Linked DNA regions of Homo sapiens: region 1 is linked to region 2. The links come from fine-mapping of genetic effects on gene expression. Tissue or cell type: whole blood. Region 2 holds a variant in brackets; the other region holds the start of a gene. All regions are shown on one strand. Distances are from middle to middle.

What was found. PIP is the estimated chance that this variant, and not a neighbour inherited with it, causes the effect.
Region 1: HSPA4 starts here. The variant in region 2 is fine-mapped to the expression of HSPA4 in whole blood (INTERVAL, PIP above 0.99). The same link has a PIP of 0.9 or more in neutrophils.

The regions. Positions count from the first base shown.
Region 1 is chr5:133,047,636-133,055,722 of GRCh38, reverse strand. It overlaps HSPA4 (heat shock protein family A (Hsp70) member 4), which reads right to left and starts at 3,710. Exons shown (of 19, transcript NM_002154.4): 1 at 3,366-3,710. The coding sequence starts at 3,472. RefSeq lists enhancers at 1,534-2,496, 3,735-3,914, 4,105-4,154, 4,225-4,274, 3,461-4,423.
Region 2 is chr5:133,105,069-133,113,172 of GRCh38, reverse strand. HSPA4 (heat shock protein family A (Hsp70) member 4) reads right to left here. Exons shown (of 19, transcript NM_002154.4): 19 at 6,724-8,104. It overlaps LOC105379178 (a long non-coding RNA gene), which reads left to right. Exons shown (of 3, transcript XR_948792.2): 3 at 1,658-2,105. Among named protein-coding and RNA genes, the nearest start is that of HSPA4, 57 kb to the right of the region's middle. RefSeq lists an enhancer at 4,607-4,656. The variant C/T (reference allele first, on the strand shown) is at 4,737.

The sequences.
Region 1 (8,087 bases), 57 kb after region 2:
TACCACAGTTAGTAATTACTACATATTTTTGTTTAGTATTTGGTTTAATCCACCAGCCATGTCCATAATGGCATGACCTTATTTGTTCACCACAGTACCTCCAGTGCTTAGAAAAATGGCTACCACATCAGAGGCACTCAACATCTGATAAAATGAAGGAAGCCTAAATTGGGTGGAAAATCAAGGGTCTCTTCTGGATGAGACTCCACTGGCTCCTCAAAAACCTAATCCAGATTGTTACACCCATATCTGAAACGAGGTACTTCCACCATCATAAACCCTCTAAGACTTGCATCTCATTTCCACTCTCATGTTAAAACAAACCCACAACATGCAGTCTTTTTTACATATGAGCTCCAAATCCATTCCTCCATAACCGCTACCAAAAAAAAAAAAAAAAAAAAAAAAAAAAAAATCAACCTTCCTGCTACCATTTTCTATTTAGCCCAAGACTCCAAAACAGAGTAATCAAAGTGAATCAAAATCATACAGTTCAGAAATCACTTGAAATGTATGGCATGCCTGTAAGTTAATGAAAACTATGAAGGAAAATATAAAGAAAACATGTAAGGAAAATTATTTAAATGGAATTTTCTTATCACAATTCCGTGGTGTATGGGGTCATATATATCACAATGTCTTTGAGGCAAATTTTTTATCTGCAACAACTCAGTTTCAAATAGAATTCATGGTATAATTGTTGTAGCTATTGTCTTTCTAAAAGAAAAACAGGAGCATGTGATAATAATCTAAAAGAAAGGATAGGAACACTGTTCTTCCCCATACTTGGGATTCTCTTCCTGTGCGCCCTTTGGAACTAAAGCGTGTTCAATCACAGGGCAGGAAAGGACCAAAACACTAAATACATTAACTCAGCGCTTTAGCCTTTTCAGTTCCTTAGGGGAGACATTTTATAGACCAAGAAAACACGGATACAAAGATATTCTCAAATACTAAAATGCTTAAAAACAAACTTTAATGCTTAAAAAAAAACTTCAGGGCACAATACACTTCCCTGGAGATGCCAAGTTAGACTACCCATTGTTAAAAAGTACAAATAGGGAAAATAAACTGCTAAAGGGCACAGGGCTTTGGGGGAGTGATAAAAATGTTCTAAAATTGATTACAGTAATGGTTGCACTGTTTTGTGACTACACTAAAAACGATCACTTCATCTGGTTAAATTGTATAGTATATGAATTAAACCTTAATAAAGCTGTGCCAGGTGCGGTGGCTCACTCCTGTAAACCCAGCACTTTGGAAAGCCGAGGCAGGCAGATCACTTGAGGTCAAGAGTTCGAGCCCACCCTGGCCAACATGGTGAAACCCTGTCTCTACTAAAAAAGACAAAAATTAGCCAGGCGTGGTGGCGCACACCTGTAATCCCAGCTACTCGGGAGGCTGACGCAGGAGAATCGCTTGAACCCAGGAGGCGGAGGCTGCAGTGAGCCGAGATTACGCCACTGCACTCCAGCGTAGGGAACAGAGTAAGACTCCTTTTCTCAAAATAAATAAATAAATAAATAAACCTTAATAGGGCTGTTAACAAGACTAAACTCAGCAAAGGGACAGCAAACTACCGTTTTGGCTTCTGGGATGAGTTTTCAGGGGAAGCACCTGGGTTAGGAGGTGGGGGGTGCGGAAATTTGACAAGTGGAAAGGAAATGTGAGACTTCTGAACAATCTAGTTTCGCTGAAACCTGCTGAAGAAATGTGACAAAAATTGAGGGTGAAAATAATGGACCTTAGAATTGAGCCCCTGGGGCCGGGCACCGTGACTCACGCCTGTAATCCTAGCACTTTGGGAGGCCGAGGCGGGAGGATCACTTGAGGTCAGGAGTTCGAGACCAGCCTGGGCAACTCGACAACACCCCGTCTCTACTAAAAATACAAAATTTAGCCGGGCATGGTAGCACGCGCCTGTAATCCCAGCTCCTCAGGAGACTGAGGCAGGAGAATCGCATGAACCCCAGAGGCCGAGGTTGCAATGAGCCGAGAGCATGCCACTGCACTCCAGCCTGGGGCGACAGAGCGAGACTCCATCTCAATCAATCAATAACAAGTGAGCCCCTGGGCAGGGCACGGTGGTTCATGCCTGTAAGCCCAGTACTCCAGAAGGCCGAGGCTGGAGGACTGCTTGAGTCCAGAAGTTCGAGACCATCCTGAGTGACATAGTGAAACCCGATTTCTACTAAAAATAAATAAAATTAGCCAAGCATGGTGGCGCACGCCTGCAACGCCAGCTACTCAGGAGGCTGAGGTGGGAGAATCACCTGAGCCAGGAGCCAGGGAGGTCGAGGCTGCAGTGAACCAAGATCGCACCACTGCACTCCAGCCTGGGCAGCCAGAGTGAGACCCTGTCTGTCTCAAAAAAGAAAAAAAAAAAAAAAAAAAGAAGAGAGACCCTGAATGGCAAATAATACAGAACTTCTTACAAGATTTTGTCTAAGAACACGACAACGGATTAAAATGTATCTACAAGTATTCAAAAGGCAGACACTGTAACCAGTGAAAGACCTGAGTGACCCACCATTTTTTAGAACTGTGTCTATGCTGGTCCCAAAACTTACTATGGGTTCTAGAAGTCAAGGCGGGCCCTTGAGCCACTAACAATTGTGGCCAACACACTGGTTAGAATGCATTATCGTTAAAGTGCAACCCTATTGAGGGGTTAACGCGCACAAAACAGAGAGTGACCCAATATAGCACAATATCCCGAAATAATGTGGAAAACAAAAGCGATTGCAAAGTTATCATAAGAGCACCGATTTTATTAAATTCCTATCCGTGCCAACCCAATCTCAAGACCCCGAGTCCATCCGGAACCCGTGCCTGAGGCTGCTCCAGCTCGCTCTCTTCCGGGCGCTGCCCCGCCCCCACTCACGTGGGACGCTGACCGCTCCACGGTCTCGCGGCTGGCAAGCCCCAGAACCCGTTCGATTCAACTATTATTAAGCGCCTGCTGTGTGCAAAGTTCTGAGCTTTCTGTTGGACTCAAAAGACTCAGTACGACCTGGGCCTGGTCTCTGCCCTCAAGAAAAGGACCGCGATCCGTTTACATCCTAGGCCTGCAGTCCTTCCAGTTCCTACCCGTGCCCTCCGCTGGTCCGAGTACCGGCCAGAAGCCTTTCTTCGGCCGACGGGCCACCGGGGAAAAGGCCCTCGCGCTTAGCACACACCCACGCTCATAGTGGGCCGCGGCCCCTAGTGTCCTAATACCTACTGGGGGTCCCTGACCTACCGGGACCTCGGCTCGGAACGGAGGCGACTCCTCGGCCCGCGTTCCCCAAGCAGCGAGGGTCCCAGACTGGAACAAGCATTATCTCCTAACCCCAGTGCACGCGGCAGGCCCGGCCCACACTTACGGCGTGCAGCGGTCGCTATACTCATTAGCGATAGTCTCGATGCCGCCGGCGCGGGCCACAGCGACGTAGCAGCTCTGGAAGCCCAGGTCTATGCCCACCACCGACATGGCGCCGGCTACTGCTCGGGCTCGGGCCCGGGTCCGGCCACCGAGACAGGACACGGACCCCCGGCGGGGCTAGCGAGTGGAAAGCAGGCCTCTTGGGCCGAGGCTACTGAGGGGCTTGCGGTGTCCACGCGAGCGCCTAAGTCCTTCCAGTGGGTACTGCAACCGAGAGCGCTGCTCAGGCCGGCTCCGGCTCAGTGGCCGCAGAGGAGGCGCCGGTAGCGGGGGCGGAGAAGATCTCGAAAGATCTCGTTGCGACGAGAGCGGAGCCGCAGCACCAGAGCTACGAAAGAACGGGATGTTCTCGCGATATCCCGGCTCAGGCGCTTTTCCCCTTGAGGCCCCGCCCCCAGTACGTCTGAATACGTCACGTCCTGGCTCGAGAACCTGGGAAAGGACTGGGTGGCTGAAAGATGGCTGGAAAGCGCATTTAGCCAACCGAGCCTGCGCATGGAACCTGCGGCGCTGCACAGCTGCATAGAGATGTGGAGCACCTCCCTTTACCGTAGAAAGTAGGCGAGCCAGCTCGAGGCACTATACTGAGGAAGCGCTGCGGCCTACTTCCGCCGTTTTTCTTAACATCAAAGAAACTTCCGGTAGTGGGGTGTCTTGCATTCCACCGTGTCGGTGCCCCAGAATGAGACGCAAGCTGATCTGCAGATCCCGCAGGGTGCCTTCTGCTCTTTTCGGGGCAGGTTGGCCGGTAGGGGAGAAGGCCGCCATTGGAACGCGGCCTTTATGTCGGGTTCTCTCAAGAGTCTAAGATCGCACCCTCACCAGCGGAGGGAAGGAGCCCACTCCCAGCCACACCGCTTTGTTTTCTTTCGCTTAGCCTTGTTGCGCCGTTCTCTAAGCCACTCATGTCCTTAGATCAGATTGAGGGGCCCGCAGGATTTAAGCCTTTAATCCACAGCACATTCCAAGCACCTACCCGGTGGTAGGCCCTAACAAGGAACACAGGCAAGTGACACGCTGCCTGGCCTGAAAGGTCCGCTCAGACCTTTACATGAAGTTAATAAATGTTAAGCTTCAGGGCCCCTCGCTTGTATGGCCTCCTGGGAGAATAGATAGTTGCTGAGTTGTGGAGAGGGGAAGCCAGCTTGAGATTAGGAAGCAAATCTATGTAAGCATTTCTAATAAATTACCCAGAGAGATCTAAGGAGAATCTGAATCTCCAAGTCTCTAGTAATGTGTTGTGATTTGTCGTTTTAATTATTTGTTTTGTGTATTTGTAGGGCCCCCCAATGGTATATAAGTTTCACCTCTGCAAAACCTGGATCATCCCCATCATGAGGGTGGCTAAACAAGTAAAGGTGACCCCAGTACAGAATGGCGAGTGCTATATGCACAGAATGGTGGAGACTAGGACAACTTCCCAGAAAAGGAAAAGGCTGTGTTCAAGTTTGGAAAACTAGCAATAGAGACCATAGTTTAAGGACTAAAAAGAAATTCTCCGTTGCTGGAGGGTACATCATGAGTTGAAGGTCTCAAGGCTAGAGTACCTGCCCTTCAGCCATTTTAAAAGTGAATGAGCAAAGAAGAAATTACATTGCCCTGGTATGCCCTTCCCTTTAAATACCTGCATTTCCTGCCACCTCCGGAGGTACTTCACTCTATAGGAGCAACCCCAAACCCGGGTTGATTACCATTAAAACTTGCAAATGGCCACACTGTTCTCACATTTTGCCTAACTAAAACCTGTTAATTCTTCAAAGACAAGTACCAGGTGCTACCTGTAAAAGGGTACTGGGAATAAAAAGAGTAGAGGCAGCCAGGAACAGCCTTTGGAAAAACGAGAGCAGGGACATATTTGTACATTGTATACCCATGTTCATAGTAGTTTATTCACGGTAGCTAAAAGGAGGAAACAATCCACATGTCCATTGACAGATGAATGAGTTTTCTAAATTTAGTGTATACGCGTAACAGTACATTATACAGCTTTGAAAAGACAAAGGAATGAAAGTCTGATAAATGCTACAGCATGAATGAACCTTGAAAATACGCTAAGTGGAAAGCCAAACAAATCAAAATTAATTTTTTTTAATTTTTAATTTTATATTCAAAATTTAATATGATTCCACTTGTATCAGGCACCTACAATAAACTACATAAAGACAGAAAAGCGGTTTCACAAGTAGAGTGAAATGGAGAGTTAAGGGATACAGAGTTTCAGTTTGGGAAGATGAGAAAGTTCTGGAGATAGATGCTGGTGGTAGTTGCATAACAATGTGCATGATCAGTGACAGATTTGTACATTTAAAAATGATGAAAATGGTAAATTTTATGTATATTTCACCACAATTTTTTAAAGTTTTTTTAAGTTAGGTTGACCTTGACCTTCCTTCCTCTGTTTTTCTCCTACCTAGGGGCAATATCAATAATACCAAGCACACTGTTGACCTTAATTATGACAGAGTCCTGTCTCCATCTGTTTATCTCAGTTGTTAATCACTGAGCAAACAACCCGAGCTGCCTAAGCTAAAGTGTCCAGTGGACCTAAAAGATCACTGTCTGTGTTACTGCCTGTTTCTGCCTTCCTTCTATTGGAAGACCTCCCTAGGTCTTAGCTAAGTTGATGAAAATTACACCCATATCTTATTATGTTCCAACTTCATACCTCAACTGCCTTGTTTGCCTTGGTACTGCTTTCAGTTTAAAATACCACCAGCCCTATCAATCTTTTTAATGATTTGTCCTTCTCAAAATAAAACATAACTACCATCAGTCACAGAGAGTACTCATCCTCCTATAAATAGTTTCCTGGATCATCAAACTTATAGCTTAAGAGATTATTCTGGGATATTTAAATAAATGAAGTCAGGAAAAGGTTATTTTAGAATCCTGAAGAATCTAACGTGGCAAGTTTCCAAGTATCACAGTTGCGAACCAACGAAGTGTCCAGAATATTTAATGTTGGAGGCACTGTGTTCGGAGAACAAATTCTTTCCATTTGGCAGAGTATCTTAGGTATTTAAGTATTTTAAAAGCAGGAAGTTGTTAAATGCCACTCTCAAATACAACGATTAAATTTAGTCCTAAGCAATCACAGAAGTGTTTGTTTTTAAATATACAGTGTTCATAGGCTGCCCAACAAAAGACAAAAGGTTCTCCATCAGCTGGGGACTCATATTTCTCCCTGACAAGTGTCCAGTGGAATCCTGCCCTACGCTCTGGAGCAGCTTCTGCAATTTTTTGCTTCACAAGGAAACTACCTGCTCAGATAATGGTGATTTTCTGACTTCCCTGATCTTACAGTGAGTGGAGCAATGCTTTTAGTCAAAGCAACAACCCTTTCTTAAACACCAAAACTCCAATAACTCAATAATAATGGTAATTACCATGTCTCTGGCATTCCTACAGCATATGCTAGCATTACGCCAGACACTGTATTGATACCAATATAATTCCTTTACTCGTCATAGCAAGCCCATCAGGTAGGTGATATTTTTCCTATTTTATAGAGACCTGATAAGGTTAAGGTACTTGTTCAAGGTCACACAATTTTCTCACAACTACACTGCTTCTCTATTTCTTCTTTTAGATGATCGCTTTCTGTCACCCAGACTGGAGTGCAGTGTCACGTTCATAGCTCACTGCAGCCTGGGCTCAAACAATCCTCCCACCTCAGCCTCCTGAGTAGCTAGGACTACAGGCATGTGCTGCCACATACAACTCATTTTTTCATTTTTTTGTAAAAATGAGGATCTCTTAGCCAGGCACAGTGGCTCATGCCTGTAATCCCAGTGTGTCCAGAATTGGTAGGTTCTTGGTCTCCCTAACTTCAAGAATGAAGCTGCAGACCCTCGCGGTGTTACATTTCTTAAAGATGGTGTGTCCAGAGTTTGTTCCTTCTGCTGTTCGGACGTGTCTGAAGTTTCTTCCTTCTGGTGGGTTCGTGTTCTACGCTGACTTCGGGAGTGAAGCTGTAGAACTTTGCAGTGAGTGTTATAGCTTTTAAAGGCAGCGCAGTCTCAAAGAGTGAGCAGCAGCAAGATCTATTGTGAAGAGCAAAAGAACAAAACTTTCACAGTGTGGAAGGGGACCTGACCAGGTTGCGCTGCTGGTTGTTGGGGAAGGTGGGGGGCACGCAGCCTGCTTTTATTCCTTTATCTGGCCCCACCCACATCCTGCTGATTGGTCCATTTTACAGAGTGCCAATTGGTCCATTTTACAGAGAGCTGACTGGTCCGTTTTGACCGAGTGCTGATTGGTGTCTTTACAAACCTTTAGCTAGACACAGAGTGCTGATTGGTGCATTTACAATCCTTTAGCTAGACACAAAAGTTCTCCAAGTACCCTACCTGATTAGCTAGACACAGAGTGCAGATTGGTGCATTTACAAACCTCCAGCTAGACACAGAGTGCTGATTGGTGCGTTTACAAACCTTTAGCTAGACATAGAGTTCTGATTGGTGCGTTTACAGTCCTTTAGCTGGACAGAAAAGTTCTCCAAGTCCCCACCAGACCCAGAAGCGCAGCCGGCTTCACCTCTCAATGGCACTCACCATGGGACTTTGTGGCATCTAGCCGGGGCACTCCAGCAGCCCAGAGGGAGTTCATCCCCCCATCAAGCCCAGCAGGCACCAGTCGGCAGCGCTGAGTGCAGGCCACTGAG
Region 2 (8,104 bases):
TCTTTGAAGGAAGGGGGGAACCCTCATACACCAAGAAATCTTGTCTTTTTTTTTTTTTTTGAGACAGAGTCTCGCTTTGTCGCCCAGGTTGGAGTACAGTGGTGCAATCATGGCTCACTGCAACCTCTGCCTCCCAGGTTCAAGCAATTCTCATGCCTCAGCCTCCCAAGTAGCTGGGATTACAGGCACCCGCCACCACACCAGGGTAATTTTTGTATTTTTAGTAGAGACGGAGTTTCACCATGTTGGCCAGGCTGGTCTCAAACCCCTGACCTCAGGCAATCCACCTGCCTCAGCCTCCCAAAGTGCTGGGATTATAGCATGAGCCACCACACCCGGCCTTCTTGTCTCTTTTATGCCATGCATATTTGGCCTCTCCACCACAAGTTAGGCAAGGAAATAAAACTGGGCCTCAGGAGCCTCACACGGAGCCCAGGCATTCTGAAGCTCTTCCTCACTTTTCTACAGCAGATGTCCAGGATTCAGAGGCAAATCGCTGCTTTCTAGGAGTCTCTACCCACAGCTACAGAACTCCACCTTGAACAGGGGTCAGTGTGTTGTTCCTGCTCCTTGCTGAAGCTACTAATAGGATCACACGAGGCTGAGTCCATTGGACTGGCTCAAGTCAAAAGGAAAGAGGGACCTCCGTTCCTCCATCCAGGTGGGATGGATTCACGTGTCACCCCAGGGGCAGGAAGCAGCACTCCCTCCCCATCCGGGGACTATGACCATGTCACACGGGAGGGCGGTACATCTTTGGTTCTTAGGTTGACTTTCTACCTTGTTCCTCTGGAGCCTGGGCTCCTGGTGGGGTAAGGACAAGAAAGGCCAGGAGGCTATGGTAACTCGGACTACTTATGTCTGGGTCAGCTACTCTGCACTTTAAAGGGCAAGTTGCACACCTGTTGTGAGCAATACCTTTGTTCTTCCTGTCTTCAGTGCCTTCCGCATGCATCATCTCACATGCCGGACAGGCCTGGTGTTACCCCCGTTTTACAGGCGAAGGAACTGAGGCTCCTATAGGTTGTCTTTCTCAGTCAAAGCACAGTCCATGATAGGCATCTCCTGGGAACTTGATAGAAATGGACTCTTCGCCGGGCATGGTGGCTCACACCTGTAATCCCAGCCCTTTGGGAGGCCAAGGCAGGTGTATCACGAGGTCAGGAATTCAAGACCAGCCTGGCCAAGATGGTGAAACCCCATCCCTACTAAAACTACAAAAATTAGCCGGGCGTGGTGGCAGGCACCTGTAATCCCAGCTACTTGGTAGCCTGAGGCAGGAGAATCGCTTGAACCCGGGCAGCAGAGGTTGCAGTGAGCTGAGCTCGCGCCACTGCACTCCAGCCTGGGTGACAGAGTGAGACTCCATCAAAAAAAAAAAAGAAAGAAAGAAAAGAAAAAAAATGGACTCTTCAGCCCCACTCTGACCTGCTGAATCAGAATCTGCATTTTAGCAAGATCCCCAGGTATACTGAGAAGCACTGGGCTGGGATCTACCTGAGGTCTGGGAGCAGTCCAAGATTCTTCTTTTTAACAGTGATGTCATACTTTGGGTGGTAAGGACCTAAGAGATTAGTAGCAAAAGGCCTACTTTCTTGCTTGAGCCCCTGCTTGCTAGCTTGAGGACTCTGTTAAACCATACTTATTTTGCTTTTAGCTACCCAGAAGGAGAGGAGGTGGCCGTCTGTGTTCTCCAAACTTCTGGGACTCCTCAAGGAGTGAAGTCTGATCTACGCACGGAACCAACCACCACGGCAAAGGAAGAGCGATGGCGCCCCCATGTGGCAACACAAGCACTGCGATTTCACACAAGACCAAATCAGAATTGGCCGGAGGGGAACGTCAGATTCTTAGGGAGTGTTACTCCAACTAATGCTACACTCAGGGCGACTTCTTGGAAGGCAAAAGCCCCATAGTCTAGCCATACAACTTTCCAGAAAAGTAGCACTCTTCAAAACAGCTGGCATTAAAATTCTTGGCTCTGCCATCCACCCGTTCTGTGAGACTCTTTCCTCATCCCCAAAAATGGAAGGTCTGATGACTTCAAAAAGAGTTTTACCGTTTTTCCCCTCATTGAAAATAATAGAAAACAGTAAAATACTGCATTTCTGCCTTCAAGTATTCACTGAGCGCCTTCTCCATTCCCTGCTTCTTGCCGGGCTGCACGGAGGCAGCTGTAACCCAGGCAGAGTCCCTCCTTCAGTTGTGGGATGTAGAAGACAAGGACAGGACCAGTCACAGAGGAAAGACCTTCACTCATGCTGCGGCCTCCTTTACCACTGCATGGGCCCTTTCAACTTTCCTAACCCAGACAGCTCACCGGCTCCTCATGGCAGCCTTACACGGGTCCTACAAAGCTCCCCACTGGCACTCCTGAAAGGTACCCTATAACTGGAACCATCCTTTTGTGGAATATATACTGACCCAGCTCATCCTTAGAAATCCTTTGCTGGGATTTACATCCTGGAAGCTGGGCCACTGACTGGTCTTCCAAGACCATCTGTTTCCAGCTTTCTCTTCTGCAAGCATTAGCTGAGTCTAATTTAAATAATAGATATTTTAAAATACATTTTAAAGTTCATGTAGAAAAAAAAATGGGAGACCTCCAGTATGTGGTGAGTAAAGGTCTGCTTACTTGTGATAAAGTACTTGCAGTGCTTTCTCTCCCTCAACTGATCCAGGACTCCAAATCTAATAGTCCATCTCGCCCTTGAAGGATGTAAACCCAGACACACTAGTGAACAGGCCCGATAAAAACACAGCTTTCTGTAGTCTTTTCTGTGTTGTGTTTGAAGCTGGCGAATGCCACTTACGAAGGGAGAGTAAAGAGTCTCTACTCACCCTGTCCTAATGACGTGTGCTGAAACTGGAGGAATAAGGTCAGGATTAGCCTGGCACTTGCCCATGGATATTGAGCAAATCTGGAAAGCATTCTGTATTTTTTTAAATACTCTGAGGTCTTTCCTTCCCTGATCCTCCAGAAATTTACACCCTCCTTTATCTTTCCAGATGTGTTGCTTGTACCTCAACTTGGCCATTTTCCCTATTTGCCTCCTAGACTGATGCTTAAGAAGTCACCTCTTTAGTTTCTACACTTCTTGCAATATCTGCTCAAAATAGCAGTTCACAAAAACAGTGGCATTCCAGGTTAGAGGGTCATGGCCCAGGGCTGCCCCAGCCAAAGCCAAGTACATCCAAGGAATGTACTGGCAACTCCAAGATTCCCAATGGTCTCAAGTAAGTGGTGGGAACCATCCCCATTTACACACAGGACACTGCCCAACCTCCTTTCTCGCAGACTGATGCCTCATTTCAGAGGCCAAGCTTCTTTTTTTTTTTTTTTTTTTGCTTTTTTTTTTTTATTTTTTTTTTTTATTTTTTTTTTTTTAATTTATTTTTTTATTGATAATTCTTGGGTGTTTCTCACAGAGGGGGATTTGGCAGGGTCATGGGACAATAGTGGAGGGAAGGTCAGCAGATAAACAAGTGAACAAAGGTCTCTGGTTTTCCTAGGCAGAGGACCCTGCGGCCTTCCGCAGTGTTTGTGTCCCTGATTACTTGAGATTAGGGATTGGTGATGACTCTTAACGAGCATGCTGCCTTCAAGCATCTGTTTAACAAAGCACATCTTGCACCGCCCTTAATCCATTTAACCCTGAGTGGACACAGCACATGTTTCAGAGAGCACAGGGTTGGGGGTAAGGTCACAGATCAACAGGATCCCAAGGCAGAGGAATTTTTCTTAGTGCAGAACAAAATGAAAAGTCTCCCATGTCTGCTTCTTTCTACACAGACACGGCAACCATCCGATTTCTCAATCTTTTCCCCACCTTTCCCGCCTTTCTATTCCACAAAGCCGCCATTGTCATCCTGGCCCGTTCTCAATGAGCTGTTGGGCACACCTCCCAGACGGGGTGGTGGCCGGGCAGAGGGGCTCCTCACTTCCCAGTAGGGGCGGCCGGGCAGAGGCGCCCCTCACCTCCCGGACAGGGCGGCTGGCTGGGCGGGGGGGCTGACCCCCCCACCTCCCTCCCGGACGGGGCGGCTGGCCGGGCAGAGGGGCTCCTCACTTCCCAGTAGGGGCGGCCGGGCAGAGGCGCCCCTCACCTCCCGGACAGGGCGGCTGGCTGGGCGGGGGGGCTGACCCCCCCACCTCCCTCCCGGACGGGGCGGCTGGCCGGGCAGAGGGGCTCCTCACTTCCCAGTAGGGGCGGCCGGGCAGAGGCGCCCCTCACCTCCCGGACAGGGCAGCTGGCTGGGCGGGGGGGCTGACCCCCCCCACCTCCCTCCCGGACGGGGCGGCTGGCCGGGCGGGGGGCCGACCCCCCCACCTCCCTCCCGGACGGGGCGGCTGAGGCCAAGCTTCTTGACCAAGTACTCAGCACCTGCAGCCTCACCTCAAGCCCCTTCACCCCACCCAGCTCCCACCCTACTGAAGCATCTAACCCTGCTGGCCACTGCCACATCTCACATCTCTAGCTCCCTTCCTCCCAACATGCTTTATGCATCATAACTCCTCTCTGGCAGTTCCTTCTTTCAAAGCTTTTACTTCCTCTTCCTAACACATCTCAACACAAGCCTTCATCCCGTCAATGAGGAACACGACTCCAGCCCCAAAAGCTTCCATCCACACCCACCTGGAGCTTCGATGTCTCAACCCCACCCAGGAAAACTTCTCAATCTAAACTCCCACCACATCTCCAATGACTCAAGACTAGAAGCTCCACATGTACAAT[C/T]ATATCCCGTATTCTAGGTTTGAAACCTTGGAGCCATTCTTCTTAAAACACACTTCTAGTTTTCTTAACATTATAAAATTCCTAAATGCTTTTATTAGTGACAGGAGGCGGTGGGGGGTAGGGGCTTGTCTCCCCATGTTGCCCAGGCTGGTCTTGAACTCCTGGACCCAAGAGATCCTCCCACTTTGGCTGGGATTACAGGCATGAGCCACCATGCCTGGCCCTAAATGCTTATTGTAGCAAACTCTGAAAACAGAAACAAGCAAAAATAAACAATCACCCACAATCCCACCCTAAAAACCACTTCATCTGGGAAAATCCTTCTGGCTTTTTTATTGCAAACCCATTTAATGTTCTTTCAAAACATGAGAGGCTATGTAGTTTTATAACCTACATTGTGTGTGTAAAAATGTAGGCCAGGCATGGTGGCTCACACCTGTAATCCTGGCACTTTGGGAGGCCAAGGTGGGCAGATCACAAGGTCAGGAGTTCGAGACCAGCCTGGCCAATACAGTGAAACCCTGTCTCTACTAAAAATACAAAAATTAGCAGTGCGTGGTGGCGCACGCCTCCAGTCCGTTACTCGGGAGGCTGAGGCAGAAGAATCACTTGAACCCGGGAGGCAGAGGTTGCAGTAAACCAAGATCCCGCCACTGCACTGCAGCCTGGGTGACAAAGCGAGACTCCATCTCAAAAAAAAAAAAAAAAAATACACACCTTTCTGTTAAAGCCACTTAAAATTATTGAAATAGATCAAGTGTACATGAGTACACTATCAAGTCAGATCAAAAAACAAGCATCACCAAGCCTCACATCATGTTGTCACTACTCCACAAAGAGTAACTACTATCCCAACTTCTAAAGCATGGTTTTCAGCTGGAACCATGCTTACATCTTCCCTCTTCCTGCAGGTACCAAAACCAGCAATTTTCCCCTTCATTTGGCTGTCCCCTCAAAGGTGGACTAAGTCCCACTACCTCCAACAACCCCCAGGCCCCCTGTGCCCCTGCAAAGCAGCTCCCACTGCCCCACAACAGAACCCTGATCTCTCAGGCCCCCACCTTTTAAGGAGACAGGGTATCACTTTATCACCCAGGCTGGAGTTGCAATAGCACAATCTCAGTTCACTGCAGCTTTGACCACCTGGGCTCAAGTGATCCTCCTGCCTCAGCCCCCCAAGTATCTGGAATCACAGGTGCACACCACCACACCCAGCTATCTCAGCTCTTTCTACCACATCTAACAATTCCCCTACAGAAACCACTTACATGCTCAGGAGGAAACCAAACCTACTAGACACACGTTTCTCAGACACGTGGCTACAATAGGCCCTGGGTAGGCCCTGGCAGGTAAGCTGCTCCTACAGCCAGAGGACTAGGACTGTGCAAGGGGCATGACCCAGGGAACAAGACCCCTGACCCCTCCTCGTCTAGACCCATGCCTTATCCAGTTAAGGTCTTTTTCACTGGCTTAGTGCCCTTTAAACACCCATCACCACCACATACATACACCAACACACATTCCACGCAGCCACACCACACATCCAGTGGCGCCAACTATTCTAGCACACTCTGGACCGCGCTGTTCTTTGGCCAGGTGTAAGTCCTAGCACTTACCTTTATGCCATAACCCCCGCCTTCTGCTAACAAAACCCTCAAAGTAAGGCCCAGTCACAGGAGCAAGACAAGGATTCCTAACACCAAAGGAACTGGGCCAAGACTCAACTGGAGAGTTTGAGTACAGAAAAATTAGGCAACATTTTCTCACAAAGTAGGCAGTGTGCTTCAGCTGTCACTCTTCAGACTGGAAGTCTTCAACGGATGTTAAGTGAAATTTAGCTCAGAGGGTTCCTACTCCTAGAGAACATTTTTATTGAAAACACACCCCCCGCCCCCACCCCACACACACATACACACAGACACACACACATACACACACACCCCCACACACACACCCAGCAGCCTTCATTATGGAATTAAGGAAACCATTCAAGTTTAAGACAGGTTTATTTTATTAGTTTTTCCTAAACTTGTCTCATGTTTACTGAATGATTTTCTTAGTGTAAGAACGTGACCTGGAGCTTTAACAAATCAGTTTGGATAACGCAACCTGGATAAATGCTTGTCTGTACACAAGCCATCAATTACCACTCTCTGTCCTGGCCTCCATGAAAATCCAATTGGTCTTAAAGCCTGTCTAAGCAGAGAGCAAGCAGACCACATCATCGTGTTTCAACTTGAAATTCACCCCCATCCCAGCACCCACACCCTTCCCCACACACACACACACACACACCAAAAAAAAAAAAAAAAAAAAAAAAAAAAAAAAAAAAAATTTTTTTTTTTTTAAGAAGAAATGGCCATTACGGTCTGGGCCAGTTGTAAAGGGTTGGCTTAATCCTGCAGCCAGCACTTTTAAAATAGCTACTGGCTTCACAGCAGGCCAGCTGGAACTCTTGAAGCATGACAGGTAGAGAACAGAGGATGTGCTAAGAACCTGGCCTTGTTGTGGTGCCTCGAGGCCTCCATGCATGCTTACACACCAACATAAGTATACTTTCCCCTTCCTCCTCCTAAGCAATTGTTCTCCATTGCACTTTAGAGCCTGTAACACTCAAACTTTTCAATGTTATCTAGAGATGGACAAACGCTTAATTCTAACTATGCAAGATAGCATCTTATTTCTAACAACATAGGCCAAAAGTAACAGAGAGGCACTCTGTTATACAGAATATCAATTTTTACAAAGATTCAAAACATTACCAACAAGCCCTGTAACAGTTTCTTAAAGCAGGTACCAACTCTGGCCTCAAACACAGGCTTCCCTTGGAGTTTCCAAAATGCCTCACTCCTGTCAACACTGCCCCAAAAAGCAGTCAGAGGAATGCTTTGGTATACCTGACATTGGCCACACAGTTAAGAATGAGGTGTTGTTATAACATCAGGCACCACACTTCTTTAACACTAATTTCAGACTCATCCAGTACAATCCAGTGTATCTTAGTTTTTTTTGCATCATCTGTCAGCTGCTTAACACGTACAAATTGGCAGGTTCATGACAGATATTAACACTTAACACACAAGTGATTGTGAATGAGCTAAAAAGAACTTTTAACTCTTGTTCTAGGAGTTCAAGCTATACCTCAAAATTATACAGAACATCTCCCACCTGAATAAACAGGCCAGGATACAAATCTTTACACCAAAATTAACAAGGATTTAATTCCTCAGTTAAATTTACCATGGCTATATCCAACAGTATATCTACCCAATTCTAATCTTCTGAAAATTATTTAGACCTTGATGCTTGGGGTATTCATGAACATACTTTCAGGAAGAGCCTCCAGGTTTAAAGCCCTCAGTTAACAA